Linked DNA regions of Homo sapiens: region 2 is linked to region 1. The links come from fine-mapping of genetic effects on gene expression. Tissue or cell type: whole blood. Region 1 holds a variant in brackets; the other region holds the start of a gene. All regions are shown on one strand. Distances are between the middles of the regions.

The links. PIP is the estimated chance that this variant, and not a neighbour inherited with it, causes the effect.
Region 2: it holds the start of HAR1A, and the variant in region 1 is fine-mapped to the expression of HAR1A in whole blood (INTERVAL, PIP above 0.99).

What each region holds. Positions count from the first base shown.
Region 1 is chr20:63,073,406-63,076,253 of GRCh38, reverse strand. No RefSeq gene overlaps it. Among named protein-coding and RNA genes, the nearest start is that of LINC01749, 5.2 kb to the left of the region's middle. The variant A/C (reference allele first, on the strand shown) is at 1,332.
Region 2 is chr20:63,100,076-63,102,749 of GRCh38, reverse strand. It overlaps HAR1A (highly accelerated region 1A), which reads right to left and starts at 1,458. Exons shown (of 2, transcript NR_003244.2): 1 at 1-1,458. HAR1B (highly accelerated region 1B) reads left to right here and starts at 431. Exons shown (of 3, transcript NR_152601.1): 1 at 431-635. RefSeq lists a silencer at 1-382.

The sequences.
Region 1 (2,848 bases):
CAGGCAACAAAAGAAAAAAACAGACAAATTGGACTTCGTAAAAAATAAATATTTTTGTACCAAAAGACTATTTTTTTTAAGAGCCAGGGTCTCGCTCTGTTGCCCAGGCTGGAGTGCAGTGGCACAATTACAGCTCACTGCAACCTTGAACTCCTAGGCTCAAGTGATCCTCACGCCTCAGCCCCCCAAGAAGCTAGGACTACAGGCATGGAGCACTGTGCCAGGCTGTTTTTTATTTTATGTTTTTGTAGAGACAGGGTCTCACTATGTTGCCCAGGTTGTTGACCCTCAAGTGATCCTCCTGCCTTGGCCTCCCAAAGTGCTGGGATTACAGGCAGAGTTAATATGCCCAGCCAAAAGACAATATTAACAGGGAAAAAAGGCAACCCAGAAAATGGGAGAAAATATTTGCAAATCATATATCTGATTAGGGATTAATATCCATAATATACAGAGGACTTCTAAAACTCAACAACAACAAAAAACCTAACTCAGAAATGGGCAAAGGACTTGGATAAACATTTCTACAAAGAACACATACACATGGCCAATAAGCACATGAAACATCGCTAACCACGAGGAAAATGCAAATCAGAACCACAGTGCGATGCGCCTCACACCCACTGGGATGGCTACTGTGAGAAAAAACCGAAAATAACAAATGTTGGTGAGGATGTGGAGAAACGAACCCTCGTGCATGGCTGGTGGGGGTGTAAAATGGTGCCACCACTGTGGAAAACAGGATGGCACTCCCTCAAAAAACTCCAAATAGAATGACCACGTGATCCAGCCATTCCACTTCTGAGTGCACCCCCAAAAGAATTGAAAGCAGGGTCTCAAAGATAACCTATAGCAGATGTGCATGCTGTGAACCCATGTTCATAGCAGCACTGTTCATAACAGCTAATATGAACCCCATATCCATTGAAGGATGAACGACTATACAAAATATGGTCTATCCACGCAATGGAATATTATTCCGCCTTTAAAAAGGAAGGAAATTTACCCATGCTACAACGTGGATGAAATTTGAGGACTTGATACAAAGTGAAATAAGACAGTCGCAAAAAGGCGAATACTATACGATTCCACTGGTGTGAGGTACTTAGTCAAATTCATAGACAGAAAGTAGAACGGTGGGTGCTGAGGCTTGAGGGAGGGGGGATGGGAGTTGTTTAATTCGGACAGAGTTTCAGTTTTACAAGATGAAGAGAGTTCTGGAGGTGGACAGTCGTGATGACCGCACAACATTATGAACAGACTCAATACCACTTAAAATGGCTAATAAGGTAAATCGTGTTATGCATATTTTACCACAGGCCCAGGCCTTA[A/C]GGAACTGGCACTTCCTGTCTCCTGGAACACCCACTTTCAGAACCATCACCATGCCACGTGGGAGCTCAGGTTGCCCGTGGAGACATCCATGGAGACGAACTGATGGCTGTGCCAACTCACGTCTTGGAGATTGGTCCCGCAGATAGGGTTGAACTGTCCCAGTGGACGCTGTGGAAGAGAGGCAAGCTGACTCCTCTCAGCCTTGCCTTAATCAGCTTTCTGATCCCAAGAAATTACCACTTTTTAAGCCATTCACAAGTTACATCAAACTTCAATATCTGCCCTGGTGTCCCACTATAAGCTGTCCACAGGATATGGCAACATGTGAAACTCAGAAACATCTTCTGTTCTCAAAATGTGCCTTTATTTTATTGTTATTATTTTGAGACGGGGTCTCACTCTGTCACCCAGGCTGGAGATCAGTGGCCTGATCACGGCTCACTGCAGCCTCAACCACCTGGGTACAAGTGATCCTCCCACCTGAGCCTCCCAAGTGGCTGGGTCCACAGGTGCGCACCACCACGCCTGGCTAACCTTTTTTTTCTTAGTAGAGATGCGGTCTCACTATGTTACTCAGTCTGGTCTCAAATTCCTGGGCTCAAGCGAGACTGGCCCGCCTCGGCCTCCCCTAATGCCGGGATTGCAGGTGTAAGCCACTGTGCCCAGCCACAAAGTGTGCCTTTCTTTAAGTGTGTTACCTAGGTACCAATGACTTTTTGAGTAGAACAAAAAAACAAAAACAAAAACATTAAAAAGTGTATATACCTAACTTTCCCACCTTCCCACAGGACTCCGAATTTAAGAACTGTTAGCATATAAAACTCTGTGGGGGTGGCCCCCTGCGGAGGCTTCAGGGAAATCGGCTGTGGTGACCGGAGACTCCGAGCCTCCTCCCTTAAAAAGAGGAAACTGTGCAAAATGCAGCTCCAGAAAAAAATTCCTGATCTTCTGAAGTTTCCTGATGACAGGTGGGGGACAGATTCCTGGGGACTGGAGAAGCCTCCGGGGAAGAAGTGTCCCTGTGTGTCCAGCCTGTGCAGGGAGGGGAGGGCACATCGCAGGGCTGCAGCTGGCCCCAGGGAGAGCTCCCGACCTCCAGGGAGCCCCTGCACCCTTAGACCAACAGCCCCCAGGGTGCACAAGGCCACCCAGGTCCTCCCAAGAGCCCTGTGAACACTTGGGCACCCAGCCCAACTGGGAGGGCAGCTGACCAGTCCTGGGGGACATTTCAACCGCTCACCTCAGTACCAGCCACAACCCGCAAGGTGCCAAGCAATCTCAGGAATTCCTGCAGGAATGGGCACTCAGGTGGATTCCAGAGTCCCACGTGCCAGGGCCCAGGGTCCCAGCCTTGCCCTCAGATTTGAAATGCACGTCTCATCTGTAGTATCATTTAGGACCCTCGATGAGGCTCCTCCAGTTCAGGTGGGGGCTGCCTGTCACCAAAGTCCACCCCCAGCTGGGACCCAGGGCCACTGGGACCTCTACATTGGGAAGCCCCTCCTTCAGAGCAGGC
Region 2 (2,674 bases), 27 kb before region 1:
CTCGCGCCCACCGTGCCGCGCGGGCCACCGCCCACCCGGGGGCTGGTTAGAAACGCGGACTCTGCCCCTTCGCGCCGCCTCCGGGGCTCACGGGCGCCCGAGTCGGAAGCCCCGCCCTGGGGAGGCCGGTCTCCTCGCGAGGGCCTGGGCCGCTCTGGGCGCTCGGCCCGCGTGTCGGGGGCTCCCCGGGGCGCCCTGGGCTCCTGCTGCTGTTTCTTCCTGGCCGGCCTTGAGGTGCGGAGCCCCCGGGCTCTGCTGAGGGCCTCCCGGCCCCGTGGCCTCGGTGACCTCGGTTCAGGCGTCCGTGACCGTCTCGCCTGGTGGCTCCGCGCCGCTGACCTCGGCACGCCGCGGGCCTTCCTCCTCTTGCGGACCGGAGGGAGAGCCGGGCGCAGAGACCGAGGCACAGTCGCGCGGCGCGGCGTTCCGCGTGACCCTGCGGTTAAAACCCGCGCGCTGCAGCATCGCGGAAAACGGGATTCGCCTCATTTGAAACTTGAGGAAAATCTCTAAACACTTTCATTTTGATAGAAACCATTTCCGCCGCTGACGTGCGTCTACGCCCATCATTTCAGCTGACACGTTGCTGTAACGTCTCCTCCGTTTCATGCTCTTTCGAACCCTGTCAGCTGCGGGTAAGACTGTAGAAAAGAGAGGGGAGAACAGGGCCCAGCCGGTGGCGCCGGCGTCTTAGCAGCCGATTGCGCAGCTCCCGGGCGCGGCGGAGAGTCCGGGCTCGTGGGGAGCGCCGGCTCCAGAGCCCGCGGAGCAGCAGCCCAGACTCCCAAGACGGAGGGCACCGGGCGGGCGCACACACTAACCCACGCAGGGGACACTCAGGCTCTAACTCACGTGCACACACGCTCACATGTACACACGCACACACGCACCCGGACGTACACACACAGCTGTCGCCTACCACACACATTCATACTCCATTCACACTGCAGGATGTGCAAATGTGTGTGACAGAGAGAGGAGGGAGAGAGAGGGGGAGAGAGAGGGAGAGAGAGGGAGAGAGAGGGAGGGGGAGAGAGGGAGAGGGAGAGGGGGAGAGGGAGGGAGAGGGAGGGGGGAGAGAGGGAGAGGGAGAGAGAGAGGGAGAGGGAGAGAGAGGGAGAGAGAGGGAGAGAGAGGGAGAGAGGGAGAGAGAGAGGGAGAGAGAGAGAGGGAGAGAGAGAGAGAGAGAGAGAATGTGCCTCTCAGGAATGGTCAAATATCCTCCTGACACACCTGGTTGGCCCAATGCAGGGACAGAGAGGGGGATGACCTGATGGCTTTGCCTTCCACCCACCCAGCGCCTGCCCATCAGTACAGCAGGGCTGCCCTGCCCGCCTGCGACCCACCTTTCCCGACAGCCTGTGTGCTTTCTCCCCGAGTCTCCAGGACAGCCCACTAGTGGCATGGCGGTTCCCTGGGTGGGAGGAGCGGAACCCTTCAGGCCCCCTCAACACTCCCCCAAAACCTCCCTGGGGGCCCCCACTGGCTTCAGCGCCCTGCAAAAGGCTGACTAGGATCCATGTGCACACTCCGTGTGCCACTGCTGCCAGGGCCCCCAGCCCCAGGCTGCCTCCCTCCCTCTCTGTCAGGAGCTGGGTTGGCCTGGGAGGGTTGTGGTGCCGCTGACTGCTCCCGGGCAGGGGCCATCTCATCTCTGTTCTCACCGTGCAGGCAGCAGCAGGAAGGGAGGCAAAAGGAGGGAGTGGGGAGAAGGAGGGGGCGCTGACCACATGAAGAGACGCTTCTTCCCTGGTGCTCCATCTCCCTCCCCGTCCCCCAGTGGACACCCTGGACCAAGCTGAGCCCACAAGGGTGCCCACCCTGCATGCTTGTCCCCATCAGCTCCGTGTGGCCCCCTCAGGCAGTTTCCACAGTGAGCTCAGGTGCAGCAGGGGTCCCGAGCACAGAAATGACCAGGAGACCCTGGCCCTGCCCCTGGGGCCCTAGAAACAGCTCCTGCTCTTGAATTCCCCACCCCTGTGTGCTCAATTTCTCTGGGCCTCTGGGTGCTTTTGAGGTTCCTGGCATTTACCAAGGAGAAAGATGCAGGAGGGGAGGCTGCAGGGCTGTGGGGATGGTGAAGTCCAACCCAGCCACCCCCAGCAGGATGGTGTGTGGGGCCGGACACCTACCAAGATCTCTTCCCAGCTTTTCTGTGGGAAGGAGCCGGCCAGGGCCAGAACCCTGGCTGAGACATGAAGCTAAAAGTGCCTGAGGACTTGGTCCCAGGTCTCTGTCCTCCTCCCCAAATGCCTCCGGAGCCTTCATCTCTTCAGGCACCTCACTCACTTCCACCCAACCCCGCCTGCCCTGGGCGGACCCTCCCCCAGCTCTGCCCTCCCCCACACCCCAAACCCACCCTCCCCATTCTGTTAAAACAAAGCCCCTCTTAGCAGGGTATGTCACGTGGCGCTGCCGAATTATTCCATTAATTTATTATTCATGATGAAAAATTATTCTAATAACATTTCCATACTATTAATATTCCAAAGACGAGCCGTTGAGAGCCCCTTCCTGCGGCCTCCTCTTGGCGAGAGCCAACTCTATTTTTAACAAAGTGTATTGAAATTTAAATCTAATCACCCACAATATGCTACGTTTCACAAATACGCTCTCAAAGAGTCTGTGAGAGGAGCCAGGCCCGGTGGTCCCGGAGGAGGCAGGCGGGTGGGCC